Linked DNA regions of Homo sapiens: region 1 is linked to region 2. Evidence: fine-mapped expression QTL. Tissue or cell type: whole blood. Region 2 holds a variant in brackets; the other region holds the start of a gene. All regions are shown on one strand. Distances are between the middles of the regions.

What was found. PIP is the estimated chance that this variant, and not a neighbour inherited with it, causes the effect.
Region 1: it holds the start of OXSR1, and the variant in region 2 is fine-mapped to the expression of OXSR1 in whole blood (INTERVAL, PIP 0.96).

The regions. Positions count from the first base shown.
Region 1 is chr3:38,161,197-38,169,302 of GRCh38, forward strand. It overlaps OXSR1 (oxidative stress responsive kinase 1), which reads left to right and starts at 4,341. Exons shown (of 18, transcript NM_005109.3): 1 at 4,341-4,750. The coding sequence starts at 4,681. It overlaps LOC101928234 (a long non-coding RNA gene), which reads right to left and starts at 4,280. Exons shown (of 5, transcript XR_940733.2): 1 at 4,201-4,280; 2 at 1,752-1,801. RefSeq lists enhancers at 3,016-4,215, 3,376-3,455, 3,606-3,735, 4,006-4,105, 4,499-5,114 and silencers at 4,346-4,735, 4,786-4,835.
Region 2 is chr3:38,378,433-38,386,538 of GRCh38, forward strand. XYLB (xylulokinase) reads left to right here. Exons shown (of 19, transcript NM_005108.4): 15 at 814-910. Among named protein-coding and RNA genes, the nearest start is that of XYLB, 36 kb to the left of the region's middle. The variant G/A (reference allele first, on the strand shown) is at 3,575.

The DNA.
Region 1 (8,106 bases), 220 kb before region 2:
CGTATTTCATGCGTTATATTTCATGTATATTTCATGTATAATATATTTCATGTATATATTTCATGTATATTTCATGTATATTTCATGTATATTTCATATACATATTTCATATACTATGCATATTTCATATACATATTTCATATACAATGCATATTTCATATACATATTTCATATACAATGCATATTTCATATACATATTTCATATACAATGCATATTTCATATACATATTTCATTTACATAATATAGTTCATATATTATGTATATTTCATTTACATAATATAGTTCATATATTATGTATATTTCATTTACATAATATAGTTCATATATTATGTATATTTCATTTACATAATATAGTTCATATATTATGTATATTTCATATACATGTCATATATTATGTATATTTCATATACATATGTCATATATTATGTATATTTCATATACATATGTCATATATTATGTATATTTCATATACATGTCATATATTATGTATATTTCATATACATATGTCATATATTATGTATATTTCATATACATATGTCATATATTATGTATATTTCATATACATATGTCATATATTATGTATATTTCATATACATATGTCATATATTATGTATATTTCATATACATATGTCATATATTATGTATATTTCATATACATATGTCATATATTATGTATATTTCATATACATATGTCATATATTATGTATATTTCATATACATATGTCATATATTATGTATATTTCATATACATATTTCATATATTATGTATATTTCATATACATATTTCATATATTATGTATATTTCATATACATATTTCATATATTATGTATATTTCATATACATATTTCATATATTATGTAATTTCATATACATATTTCATATATTATGTATATTTCATATACATATTTCATATATTATGTATATTTCATATACATAATATATTTCATATATTATGTATATTTCATATATTATAGATTTCATATATATTATATATTTCATATATTATAGATTTCATATATATTATATATTTCATATATTATAGATTTCATATATATTATATATTTCATATATTATAGATTTCATATATTATATATTTCATATATATTATATATTTCATATATTATAGATTTCATATATATTATAGATTTCATATATATTATAGATTTCATGTTATATATTTCATATATATTATAGATTTCATGTTGTTTCATATATGTTATATATTTCATATTTCATATATATTTATATATAGTATATATACTTCATACATATTGTCTATATTTCATATATAATACATATATAATTTCTTTTTTTCTTTTTTGAGATGGAGTCTCACTCTCTGTCGCTAAGGCTGGAGTGCAGTGGCATGATCTTGGCTCACTACAACCTCTGCCTCCTGGGTTCAAGCGATTCTCCTGCCTCAACCTCCTGAGTAGCTGGGATTACAGGCGCCAGCCACCACGCGTGGCTAATTTTTGTATTTTTAGTAGAGATGGGATTTTACCCTGTTGGCCAGGCTGGTCTCGAACTCCTGACCTCAGGTGATCCACCTGCCTGGGCCTCCCAAAATGCTGGGATTGCAGGTTTGAGTCACCGTGCCAGGGAGAAAAAAACAAAACAAAATAAAACAAAACAAAACAAAAACAAAACTGAAGTATGTCCATGGGTCATACAACTCAACAACCCCAAGCCAAGAATTTCTGGTTTGTAGACCTTTCTATTGGTACAAACCTTGAGGCTAATTCTTACCATCAGATTTAGCTCCTTTCTGATACATTTGATCCCCATCCCTCTCCTCCCTGCAAAAAGAAAAAGGCAGAACATATGGTAAAGAAACTGTCAGTAGTAATGGCTGAAAACCACTTACAGCAAGGCCTGTGCTATGCTTTCTGGAACTGCGGCACCTTTGCTGAGCCTGGACTATTCTATCCTCTAAATGTGCACCTGTTGAAATCATGTTAACTTTGCAAGATCTGGTACAAATGCTACCTTCTTCATGAAACGTTCTCCAATCCAACCAACTAGGTGGAAACCCGCTAGTAGCTTCTAGTTGACTGGTTTCATGGTCAGTTGGACCTCCCACAGCAGAGCTCAGCGCAGAGCTTCCAGTGCTTGGCGGTGTTTTAGAACCAAACTAAGGTCTACTTGCCCAGTGCAGTGACATTAGATTGCCACACGGAGGTTTTGCTGCAGTAGAAAGGCAGGGCGCCTAGCAAGAGGGGAGAATTAGTGTAGCTCAAGCTTAATATATATATAAATATACATTATATATAATACATATTTCATAAACTTATGAAATACATACTGGGGACCTAAACTTCCTGGCGTGAGCCACCGCGCCCAGCCAAGCATTCTTAAAGATAGGGGTAATTTCGGAAAAGAAGAAGTTACAGGTAAAGTCATAAATCAATACACAGAGGTTATACATTGGTTTGACCTAAAAAGGGGGGACATCTCCAAGCAGGAGCCCACAGGTCATAGGTGGATTCAAAGATTTTCTGATTTGCGATTGATAAAAGAGGTGAAGCTTTGTCTAAAAATTTCGGATCAGTAGAAAAGAATGTTAGCTACAGCTTGTGGGCATGACCTTCTTCAGGAAGAAGAAACTTAGAGAAAAAACAAACCACCAGTCAGAGTTCAGTCCTTAGCTCCCCATTCTCTGAGGTCTATGTGCCAGCAGATCCATTTGGTGGGGGTCTGGGTTTCTAAAAAACAACTCAGGGACATGTGTTGATGTTATCTTTAGTTTTTATAGGGAACCAAACATCCAGTTATTTTAGTTTCTTTGGCTAATGTTTAAAGTTATTACTGCCCTCTTGCTTATCAAGGGGTTCATTAACTTTTCAAGGCTAGCTAAGTGCCGGGAATTTCTCTTGAAGTAACTCAAGATTTTCCTTTATTTCCATGGTTGAGGGCCTGCAGGCCCTAAAAGGGGTCCCTGCTCCGTCTCAGCTGGGCCTAGGTGAAGGTCTCTTCCTTTTTCTGAGACGGTGTCTCCGTCTGTTGCCCAGACTGGAGTGCAGTGGCATGCTCTCGGGTCACTGCAACCTTCGCCTCCTGCTTCAGCCTCCCTAGTAGCTGGGATTACAGGCGCCAGCCACCACGCCCAGCGATTTTTCTGTATTTTAGTAGAGAGGGAGTTTCACCATGTTGGTCAGGATGGTCTCGAACTCCTGACCTCAGGTGGTCCGCCCGCCTCCGCCTCCCAAAGTGTTGGGATTACAGGCGTGAGCCACCGCACCCGGCCTAAGGTCTCTTCCTTAAAGACTGCCGTTGGACTGAAAGGTGTCCAACCTAGAACAGTTTCGCACCTAGCCCTATCCCTGTTGGATGCTCATTATTTTTTAAAATCCAATTTACCAAGCGTGTTCAGTCTTCAGCTCGCTAATTTCTCTAACGGCCGTACGTAGTCAAACTGAGAAAACTGTTCAGTGGGGGCGACAAAAGCCAACGCCCGTGAGACAACCCCCAAATCCGTGGGTCGATCTCACTTGTTTAATACCCCAAGCCCTGTCCGGGGGGAAGAAAGACAACCTCCCGAGTCCCTCAAGGCAGGTGCTTATTTGAGCTTCAGATCTAAAGCTGCGAATGGACAGAACCCGCCCAGTGCAGGGTGGACCCGCGAGAGACAGCGCCGCGACAAGCGTTAGAGAGAACGTCCGCCTTGAAAAAAATGTCACCAGGCAAACTTCCAGTTTCACTCCGACCAGTGGCCCAAGGCCTTTTATCCTAGTTGGCAGTGGTCCACACCCAAAGGCTACCCCACCCAGCCGCTCCCTCAGGGTTTCTCCACACCCTGTAGAGCCTTTCGCACGTCTCGAGGGTGTGACGGTTACGCCGTGACGTCACTCCAGAGGAAGTGGTAAGACGAGCGCGGTAACGGAGCTCTTGAAGGGCTGCAGCCCTAACACGGAGAAGCGCGCTAAGAGCCTGGAGGCGGGACCAATTTATGACTGACGTCTACCCACACCCATTGCTTTTCTGATTCCTTCTCAAACAAACCAATGAATGCGACGACGGAGACAGCAGCGTGCCCCAGGCGCTAGAAGTGGCTCTGCCCCTTCTACTTTGCTGCCCTTTGGTCGCCATGCTTAGTGTGGCTACTGCCTCTGTGCTACTTGAGGCTCTCCTACGGCTTTTCGATGCCTTCGATGAACCTCTACCTAAGCACTTCTTCCCTTTCACCGCGAACTCCTACCTTCTCGGGTTTCTAGCTTGCTCACTTTACATCCAGCCACACTGGAGATGGCGGCCGGAGGCGGGCCCGAGGTGGGGCGTGACCAGCGCAGTGACGTCAGCGCGCTGCGTGTCGGCAGGTGGAGGAAGAGGGGAAAGTTTGGCCCGTGCGTGGGGCTGGGGTGGAGGGCGGGACAGAGGGGCTGGGCCCAGGCAAAGCTTCTGTCGCTGCTGCTGCGGAGGCCGAGGACAGGACGTGGGCTGGGCCGGGCAGTGCCGGACTCGGAGGAGCAGGAGGCGAGGTCCGCCGGAGCTCTGAGCCCCCGCTGCTCTGCCGCGCGGTGACCCCGCGCCCCGGCGCCGTCCGACCCGTGGCTGTTCCGAGACGATTGGTGGGGGCGCGGCGGCGGCGGCGGCGGCTGTTGGGGGTGGGGAGACGCGCGGCGAGGAGACGAGCGAGGTCAGCGAGTTTGAGGGAGGACCGCGAGCCGCTGCCGCCGTCATGTCCGAGGACTCGAGCGCCCTGCCCTGGTCCATCAACAGGGACGATTACGAGCTGCAGGAGGTGATCGGTGAGAGCAGGCGCTGCGGAGGGGGGAGGCGCGGCGCTGGGAGGCGGGGGACACGGGAACGTGGGGAGCCGCGGGAGCTCGGGGAGCGCAGCCCTCATAGGAATTCGTGGGGCGCTTGTGGGGCTGGGGGCTTGTAGGACGCTTGTGTCGAGGAGCGCGTGTGAGACGGGAAGGGGGTTTTGAGGCGCGCGCCTGTGAGGTGGCGTGGGGTGGGGTGAGGCTTGAGGGGGCTCAGGAGAGATTTGTGTACAGGATTCTCAAATGTGTGGACAGGAGCGGCCCATGTGTCTTGTAGAGAAAGAAAGTGCAGGTGTGGGACAGGCCTTTCCGAGGCTGTGTGAGAAATGGGATCTTGAAGTGGGCACAGCCATCGATTTCTGGGATTGTGGGATAGATAGGGAGCTTTAAGTTTTTCCTCCATCCGTGCTGGGGCGAACTGGGGATCCTCCAGGTGAAGCTGCAGGAACCGCGCTGAGCAACCGAGACCCAACTTACGACTCCTTCCAACTGACTTTCCAGTCGGGGAGGTAGACATTAAATAAGAAGACAAAAAGAAGTAAGAAGGGCTGGGCGTGGTGGCTCACGCCTGTAATCCCACCACTTTGGGAGGCCGAGGCGGGCGGATCACGAGGTCGGGGGTTCGAGACCAGCCTGGCCAATATGGTGAAACCCCGTCTCTACTAAAAATACAAAAATTAGTTGGGTGTGGTGGTGCGCGCCTGTAATCCCAGCTACTCGGGAGGCTGAGGCAGAAGAATCCTTGAACCCGGGAGGCGGAGCTTGCAGTGAGCTGAGATCGCGCCACTGCACTCCAGCCTGGGCGACAAACCCTGACTCTGACTCAAAAAAAAAAAAAAAAAAAAAAAAATTTGAAGAGGCTTTGGCAAGTGCCATGAAGGAGATAAACAAGATGTTCTGATAGAGAATAACCTGGAGATCTACTTAGGGTGATTTCAAGGAAAATTCTTTTTCTGAGGCGATAACATTTCAGTTGAGCCCTGAAGCATGAGAAGTGAGGATTAAGAGCCTCGGGAAGATTTTTCCTTACAGAGGGATATAGAGATGCAGTGGCCTTGAGTAAGGGAAGAGCTTGATTTGTTTTAGGACCTGAAGGAAGGCTGGCAAGGATAGAGAGGGAAGGGAGGAGCCAGATCTTAGGGATCTTCTCAGCTTTGGTACAGATTTTGGAATTTTAAGTATCACTGGAGGCCCTCAAATAGTGCCTTGACGTGATCCGATAAATTGGGCTGGTGTGTGAAAAGATTTGAAGGGGGTCCAGGAATACCAGTTGGCAGAGACCAAAACTTGCACATAGATTGTAATTCTCACAGAAGCCTAGGGATTGGGAGGAGGCTGGGGACTGGGGATGAGGGGAGTATTTGTTGGACAACAATAACCCAGTGACCTTGGAAATCAAAATGTTTAGCTATACAGGCTCAATCCAACGGACATGAGCAGACACCTGTGTATTGGAGGAAGGCGAATTATCTGCTTTGCCAGCATCCTGCCCTAAAATTAGTTTTATAACAAAGACCAACTGAAGACTTCCTAGCTGCCTTGGGGGTGTCAGTGTTTATTTCACTGTGGGTTTAAAAAGAACTTCGTGAAATAATTTTTGTTTTTACTTGCCTCTTGTTTTAAGACAATCTGGGCTTAAAGCAATATTGGTTCGTATAGGAAAAACAAAAACAAAACAAAACAACTCGGACTAAATAAAGACATCACATCTTTGCTTAAGCCACTTCATGGGCCTGTGTCCTTGCTACATATTGGGTCTTTGACATGTATTCGTTGGTTCTAAAGACAGCTAGTTCCCGGTCTGGACTGATTGCTTCTGGTTCCCCCAGTCAGAGTTTCATATTGAAGGAAAGGATTAAATGGAAGATTCCAAAATGATGTCAGAGAAGTAAAGAGGAGGTTCCCTATCATCATTTTAAAAGAAGAGTTTTTTTTTTTTTTTTCTGGTAGTGTATCCATCTTTCTAGGGTGAAGAGGATGGTTGTAGTCATTCTCAAAGCCTTTGCTGTTAAGGTGGCAGAGAATTTCAGAGTTGCAAAGGCGCTAGAGATTTCGTGATTTGTTAATTTGGTGTCCTCAGACCCATAGGATGTCTGTGAGTGGGCAAAAGGGAGTCTCTCAGTCTTCTGGATAGGGTTAGTGTTCCTCACATTCACAAAGTGGTCCATGGTTTTTAAAAGGTTAGGAACTCCAATGTGATTTGACCATCTTTCATAGATTTAAAACAACTTTACTGAGGTATAATTTAATATAAAATTCACCCATTTTAAGTGTAACATTTAGTGGTTTTTAGTAAATTCCCTGTGTCGTACAACTATCACCATAATCCAGTTTTAGAATATTTCCATCATCCCCGTGAGATCTCTTGTGCTTTCTTACGAGTTAATCCCTTTTTCCACCTCCAGCCTTAGACAACCACAAATCTACTTTTTGTCTCTATGGACTTGCCTTTTTTGGACATTTATATAAATGGGATCATATAACATGTGGTCTTTCATGTTTGGTTTCTTCCACTTAGCATAAATATTTTTTCATTTAAAAAAACAATTTTGAGATATAATTTACGTACCATAAGATTTACCTGATTAAAATGTACAATTCAATAATCTTTTAGTAAATTTACATAATTGTTCAGTCATCACCACAATCCAATTTTAGAACATTTCCATCATTCCAGAAAGATGCCTCATGTCCATTTGCAGTTACTCCCTGTTCCCACCCCCAGCCCCAGGCAATCACAAATATACTTTCTGTCTCTATAGATTTGTCCTTTCTGGACATTTTATGTAAATGTAATCATATAATATGTGGTCCTTTGTGTTTGGCTTCTTTTACTTTCCATAATGCTTTTTGAGGTTCATCCATCTGCCATGTAGTACATGGTTCCTTTTTATTGGATACCAGTTAATGGGCATTGGATTGTTTCTGCTTTTTGGCTGTTTGGAACAAGGCTGCTTTGAGTATTCACATCAAGTCACCCCATGAATATGTTTCATTTTTCTTGGATGTATACCCAGGAGTGGAATTGCTGGGTTATATCACAAATTCAACTGTTTAAGAAACTGCCAAACTGATTTTCAAAGTAACTGTACCATTTTATGTTCCTACTAGTAATTATAAGAGTTCTTGTTTCTCTAAATTTGTTGTCTTTTTGCGTGTAACCATCCTAGTGACTATGAAGTGGTATCTCATTGTGGTTTTGATTTGCATTGCCCTAATGACTAATGATGATGAACATCCTTTCATGTCCTTATTTATTAGACTTTCATGGATCTTCTTTGGTGAAATATCTATTCAAATCTTTTGTCCACTTGGACTGCCCATTGGGTTGTTTTTTT
Region 2 (8,106 bases):
ATGCAGCAGGTGCTAAGGCTAGGTTGCAGAAGAACAGAGTGCCGCAAAGGAAAGCAGCTGGTGGGCGGGTTGGAGACTTACCCTGGGTGGGGTGATCAAGCCTGGGCGTCTCTGAGAAGGTGGCCTTTAGGTTGAGACCTGAAAGTACTCAGGATCTCACCATGGAAAGAGTAGGATAGACTTTCAGGCAGAGGGAGCAGCTTGGGAACTAGAAGAAGGTCAGTAAGGTTAGAGTGTAGCTGTTTATGAGGGGGATGGCGGCAGGTTCTAGCATTGGTCTCAGGTGCCAGAGAAGCAGGAGTGAGCCTGGGGTTGATGCCCATCAGTGCTAGCTTGAAGGACATGCCACAGGGGTGGGATCTCAGCGTAAGCTCGTGGCTCTCACTTATCTAGTATGTACTGCATTTTCCAGGCTCTGTTGTCTAATCTGATCATTGCAACAACCCTAAAAAACAGGCGCCACTATTACCTCTGTTTTGTTAAGAAAAAGAATGATAGCAAGACTAATGTAACTTATTGAAGATTGCAGAGCTGAATGGTAGACAGAACTTGAACTCTCAGCTGCCTGAGACTAAGTTCTGTAATGTCTCTTGACTCTCTTCAAAGTGACATGCATGTGAGGCTGTGAGCTTGTGTGCTTGAGTAGTGTGTTTGTGTGAGTGTGTGTGACAGGCAAAGATAGTGGTTAAAGAGCCCAGCTATGAGTTTCAAATCTGGGCTGTTGTTTAAAAAGATCACACACAGACACACACATACACACACGAATGGACAATGAGAGTTCCTTACTCTGTGCCCACCTTTTCCTGGAGACAGGTTGCAGCATTCCCTGGGGATGTGGAGGTTCGAGCACTAATTGAAGGACAATTCATGGCCAAGAGGATTCACGCAGAAGGCCTGGGCTATCGAGTCAGTAAGTGAGCCACTGGCAGCATGTGTCCCGGGGTGGGGGCTCAGGGCCAGCTCACTCGCAGGGGCCAGGGCTAGTGGGGCAATATCTACTAAAGTTTTCTTACAGGGGGACTTGTGCAGGAGGGAGGTGGAGCCTGACCTCAGGGATGGGGTGAGAAAGTGTCAATTGGCACTTGTAGGCAAGCATAGAATAGCAGACAGGTTGTTCCCGCTTCTCAGCTGTGTCCACAATAGCCTGACCTTTTGGCCAGGACCTGTAAGACTTCGGAATGGTCTTTCTGAAACCCTAAGCTCCAAGCTGCAGATGAGCTGTCCTGAGCTCTGGACTGCAAAGACATAGGCAGTGCAAGGTCTGGGGACATGAATGGATCTTGGCCTTCTAGCCTGGCCAGGTCCCATTGCCTGTGGGACACAGTCTGGGTCTTTCAGCTTGGACAGGGAAGAGGGGGATGTAGTACCACTGTCAAAACTCGGAAGACTGATGTCTTAGTTCATTTTCTGTTGCCTATAACAGAATACCTGTTCCTGGGTAATTTATAAGGAAAAGAAATTTATTTCTTACAGTTATGGAGGCTGAGAAGTCCAAGGTTGAGGGGCCATATCTGAAGAGGGCCTGCTTGCTAGTAGGGCTCTCTGCAGAGTCCTGAGGAGGTAGAGGGCATCACATGGTGAGGGAGCTGAGTGTGCTGGCTCAGGTCTCCCTTCCTCTTCTCAGAAAGCCACCAGTCCCGTTCCCACGATAACCCGTTAATCCATTAACCTGTTACTTTGTTAACCCATGAATGGATTAATCCACTCATAAAGCCCTCATGACCCAATCTCCTTAAAGGTCCCATCTTTCAATATGTCATGTTGGAGATAAAGCTTCAACATGAGTTTTGGAGGGGACACATATTCAAACCATAGCAACTGGCATGGAGAGGGCAGACCCAGGGCCGGGGGAGGCAAAAGGAGGAGAAAGGGATTTCTGACAACTTGAGCTGTAGAATAATCAGCATTAGGATGTCAGTGAGTTCCCCTTACAGGTGGCGTTGGAATGGTCTAAGGGTCTGTAAGGAGGTTGGACTGGCCGCCTATAGAGTCCAGGTTTCTAAGATGTATTTGTCTCTCTGGGCTATAGCTGTTGTCATTAGAGAAGATAGTGAAGCTGCTTTGCTTGAGGGCCTTCCTATGATACTCTATGGACAATCCAAGTTCTATGTAATATATATTTTATACCTTTGAATCAACTGAGTAAAAGGATACTATAAAAATACCTATTAGGGAAACCTCTTAGAAAACCTGTTAGACAGCATCTGCTAAAGCTGAATATACGCCTACCCAGCAATCTCATTTCTAAGTAAAGGCACAACAGGAATTTTTGCATGTGTTTACTAAAGATGTACAGGAGAACATTCATTGCAGTACTATGCTGAATAGCCCCACAGTGGAAGTGGCCCAGTGCCCATTAATAGTAGACAGAAAAAATGCATTGTGGTGCATTTGTACAACAGGATACTACACACAAATGAAAATGAACCAGCCTCAGTGATCCACAATGAAATGGGTGAATCTCACCAAATGTAACACTGAGCAAAAGAGGCCAAACATGGACATACATATGGCAGGGGTCTCTGTACATCAAATTCAAAAGCAGATGGCACTACAGGCCAGGCACAGTGGCTCACACCTGTAATCTCCACATTTTGGGAGGCCGAGGCAGGTGGATTGCTTGAGTCCAGGAGTTCGAGACCAGACTGGGCAACATGGTGTGTTGCGGGAAGTCAGGGACCCCAAACGGAGGGACTGGCTGAAGCCATGGCAGAAGAATGTGGATTGTGAAGATTTCATGGACATTTATTAGTTCCCCAAATTAATACTTTTATAATTTCTTACACCTGTCTTTACTGCAATCTCTAAACATAAATTGTAAAGATTTCATGGACACTTATCACTTCCCCAATCAATACCCTTGTGATTTCCTATGCCTGTCTTTACTTTAATCTCTTGATCCTGTCAGCTGAGGAGGATATATCGCCTCAGGACCCTGTAATAATTGCATTAACTGCACAAATTGTACAGCATGTGTGTTTGAGCAATGTGAAGTGTGGGCACCTTGAAAAAAGAACAGGATAACAGCAATTGTTCAGGGAATAAGAGAGATAACCTTAAACTCTGACTGCTGGTGAGCTGGGCAGAACAGAACCATGTTTCTCTTCCTTCAAAAGCAAATGGGAAAAATATCGCTGAATTCTTTTTCTCAGCATGGAACATCCCTGAAAAAGAGAATGTGCGCCTGCGGGTAGGTCTCTGAACTGGCCCCCCTGGGCGTAGCCTGTCTCTTATGGTTGAGGCTGCAGAGATGAAATAAACTCCAGTCTCCCATAGTGCTCCCAGGCTTATTAGGAAGAGGAAATTCCCACCTAATAAATTTTGGTCAGACTGGTTGATCCCAAAACCCTGTCTCCTGATAAGATGTTACCAATGACAATGGTGCCCGAAACTTCATTAGCAATTTTAATTTCACCTCGGTCCTGTGGTCCTGTGATCTCACCCTGCCTCCACTTGCCTTGTGATATTCTATTATCCTGTTAAGTACTTGATGTCTGTCACCCACACCTATTCGCACACTCCCTCCCCTTTTGAAAATCCCTAATAAAAACTTGCTGGTTTTTGTGGCTTGTGG[G/A]GCATCACGGATCCTACCAACGTGGGATGTCTCCCCCAGACACCCAGCTTTAAAATTTCTCTCTTTTGTACTCTGTCCCTTTGTTTCTCAAGCCAGCCGATGCTTAGGAAAAATGGAAAAGAACCTACGTGATTATCGGGGCAGGTTCCCCGATAATGGTGAAACCCCTTCTCTACAAAAAATACGAAAATTAGCCAGGCGTGGTGGCACATGCCTGTAGTCCCAGCTACTCAGGAGACTGAGGTGGGAGGATCGCTTAAGCCTAGGAGGTTGAGGCTGCAGTGAGCCATGAGACCCTGTCTCAAAAAAAATAAAAAAAGCAGATGAAACTATTTACTATTGTTGGAAGTCGGGATAATTAGTAGTTACCTTTCAGAAGGGGCCTGTGGGGTGCTGTCAATGTTCTGTTTCATGTTCCATGGGTGTGTTTAGTTTTTAAAAATTTATGAACATTATAGGCTTATGATGTGTGCATTTTTCAGGATGTGTGTTCTAGGTCAATACAAGATTTTAACATGTGTAAAATGACCACCATGAGCATTCTGATTGCCCTCATCCCACCACCCTAAGTGTAAAAAGACGTTTCCTAAAGGTCTGCAAAGACTTCCAAGTTCCCTGAAAATGAGACTGGGTGAGCAGGGCAGGGTTGGTGCTGGAGTTGGTGGAGTGCCTGGCAGGGGTCCTCCGGCTGTCAGAAGAGAACCCCAGGGAACGGAACAGCCCAGCATACAGGGAGAAGCAGTTAGGGCAAAAGGCCCCCATGGGCTCAGGAGGAGCTGATGGGATTGTGGCATTATTCCCAGCCTCTAAGGCATTTCTTGTGCAAAACAGCATAGAGTTACTTATCCTCTTAGCAAGCTTAAATGCAGAATCAGACCTGTCTTGCCGCTCTGCTGAGTGATCACTTAAATAGACATACTTGGAACCAACAGAGGTTGCACGCACGTGAGGACTCATTCTCCAGGCTGCTGTGTGGACTGGCCAGCTCTTTCGTTCTTGCCCAGACATCATCTCATTTGGCTTTAATAGTGTCTAAGGGCAATAAAGAGGCACTTTGAATAAAAATGATTATTGTGATACTAACAGCTGCCAGCATTTGTTGGGCACTGAGTGTGTGCCCGGCCCAGTTCCTTAGCAATTAATCTTTATTAACAACAGTACCGCTGAAGTAGGTACTGATATGATTCCCACTTCACAACCGAGGAAACCAAATCTTGCAGTGGTTAAATAACTTGGTCAGGGCTGGCAGAGCTGGGATCTGAACCAAGCCAGTCTGGCTCCAGATGCTGGATTCTCAACCACTGGCTGAACCTGCTTTTTTTAAGGAACAATCGCCCTCTTGATGTTTATAGACACCATCAGACATGATAGAAACCAGCTGGGCAGGGCTAATAAGCCATAGTTTTCAGTTTATATTTCAGTGTGTTTCATGTTGTTTAGGTTGATTGTAAAAACAGTCAAATCTTGTAATAACAAGTTTGAAAAATAAAGAAAATGGGCCTGGTGCTCACACCTGTAATCCCAGCACTTTGGGAGGTGGAGGCGGGAGGATCACTTGAGCCCAGGAGTTTGAGACTGGCAACAGAGAGACCATATCTTCACAAATAATAATAATTATAAATATCCCAGTATAGTGGCATGTGCTTGTGGTCCCAGCTACTGGGGGTGGGGTGGCAGGGGTGGCAGGAGGCCGGGGGGATCGCTGGAGCCTGGGAGGTCAAGGCTGCAATGAGCTGTGATTGCACCACTTCACTCTAGCCTGGGCGACAGAGCGAGACCATGTCTCAAAAAAATAAAGGAAAATGACTCATAATCCCATCCCCTCTCTCCAACCACTGGTATCATTTAGGGACATTTTCTCCCAGTCTCCTTTATGAGCTTATTTCCATACAGCCATAGTTTTGTTCCTTTGTACCTTATATGCAAAGGGTGTATACAAGAACCAAAGTTTGTCAGAAGTCATCTTTGTGGTGCTGCGTATGATGGCCAGGTTACTTTTCCTGCATTTGGGCACTGAGGGTGTTCTTGTTTTTTTTGTTTGTTTGTTTTCTTTGTTTTGTTTTGTTTTGTTTTTCTGGAGACAGGGTTTCACTCCTGTTGCCCAGACTGGAGTGCAGTGGTGTGATCTTGGCTCACTACAACCTCCGCCTCCCGGGTTCAAGTGATCCTCCTGCCTCAGTCTCCTAAGTAACTGGGACTACAGGTGCACACCACCACGCCCAGCTAGTTTTGTATTTTTAGTAGAGACGGGGTTTCACCGTGTTGGCCAAGCTGGTCTCGAACTTCTGACCTCAAATGATCCACCTGCCTCGGCCTCCCAAAGTGCTGGGATTGCAAGTGTGAGCCACCGTGCCTGGCCATTGTTCTTGGTTTTCCAACGTGGAATCACACTAGAGCATCTTCCATAGCTTGAATTATTTCCCCAGGAGGATGGCAGTCCTTCTCTCTTCCCAGACACTGTCTTCACGGCCAGCGATGAAGATGGGAGAAGCTGAGAGGTGGGGGCTGAATGTCTTCTTCTGGACAGAGCCAAGGGGCTGGATGGAAAGCAGCAGGTCTTAAAAACAACTATTTGTTTTAAAATACATAACGAATGGATGTCTTTTTATCACAAAAGATTCATGCAAAACAGAAATATGGAATAAGAAGCAAATGCCCCCTTCATTTGCCTCCCAGACTCCTTTCCTTCTTTCCAGACTGTGACTTCCTTCCTGTGAGTTTCTGTGTTAGATTGAATCATACGGAATTGCCAATATTGAAGAAGTTTTGATTTACAAAAATGGCAATTTCATATGGTTCGACCTGACACGTGTGTGTGTGTATATATTTAACAGAAATGCTATTACATTCTATGTGTTATTCTGAGACTTGCTTTCCATAACAGTATGTACAGGTCTACCTTTTTGTTTTCTAATGACTGGCATGAGGTCTGATAAATTATTTTATAGCCCTAGTTGAAGGACATTAAGATTATTTCTTGTTTTGTTTTGTTTTTGTTTTTGTTCTTGTTTTGAGACAGAGTCTCACTCTGTCACCCAGGCTGGAGTGCAGTGGTACAATCTCAGCTCACTGCAACCTTCGCCTCCCGGGTTCAAGCGATTCTTGCACCTCAGCCACCTGAGTAGCTGGGATTACAGGTGCGCGCCATACCACCTGGCTAATTTTTGTATTTTTGTAGAGACGGGGTTTCGCCATGTTGCCTAGGCTGGTCTCAAACTCTTGACCTCACGTGATCCACTCATCTTGGCCTCCAAAGTGCTGGGATTGTAACCTCCACTTTCACCATCTCATTCTATGCCCTATACCCTTGTCCCTAGTTCATTCTTGTTTGTGTATTTTTTTTCCCTTGAGCATGTTAGCTAAAGGTTGGTATATTTTATTAAGCAATGTTAATATTTTGTTTTGTGCTCCCTTTTATTAATTTCTAATTTTATCTTTTTAAATGCTTTCCTTCTACTTTATGAATTTTTTCTTTTTCTGTATTTTTAAGTTGAAATTTTAGCTCATTTATTCCTATCCTGTATTAACTTCTAATTTATGCATTTCAGAATGCTACATGTTAACTTTATTTACATAACATATCTTTCATTTCTAAAAAGATAGTAATTTTCATCTTTTTCTGCATCAGTGAGTGGTCCTTCAAACTGGCCCCTCGTCCTTTTGACATATCTTCCATCATTCCTTGAGCATTTCCATAGCTTCTAGTATAAAAAAAGTTTCAGGCTCATCTTGTTTTTTCCTTGGATCAGCCTTGTAATCTTCCATTTATCCAAGGGGCCCTGACTTCTCTGAGTGGGAGAGATGTTTGGATGCTCTCTCTGGATGCTCATTGCTACTGGGATGATGCTGTTCCCAGCCCCTTTCAGTGGGCTGAGCTGGGAATATGTAAGGATATATAACAACCCCTTTCAGTGGGCTGAGCTGGGAAATATTAGGATATATATATACATATCCAAATATATATATGTCTGTATCAATACACACGTTACCTTTCTATTTGTCTGTCTGTCTACTTCTCCATGTGTTGAAAAACATGAGTTCAACCCTATACACTCTACTTCCAGTCCAACACCATGGGGTTCATTCTGGCTTTCTTCCTTCCCATATTTGTATCTTATCCTAACAGTGACAAAGTTGATTCTTCTGACCCCTCCAGATTGCTGCCTCCTTGACATGCAAGCCCCATTTTGGCTTCTCTGCTTACCCTTACCTGTGTTGTCTCTGTGTCGTCTCTCCAGCAGCCTCTTGAATCTGCCCCACTCTGGTTATGTACTTACATGTGGCCCTTGAGCCACTTCTGTTTGCCTATTTAATGGCTTTTTAGAGAAGGAAGAAGAAAAAAGAAAGGTAGGAAGGTAGACAGGCAATAAATATTTTTAAAGGGAAGGGTCCATTTACATTTAATGTAATTATTGAAATGATTGGATTTAATTGAATCTATCCATTTATTTTTTATTTTTTTAATCCATCCATTTACAAAATGGATTACATATCAATTTTTCTTTTTCTTTTCTTTTGTTCTATATGTTCTT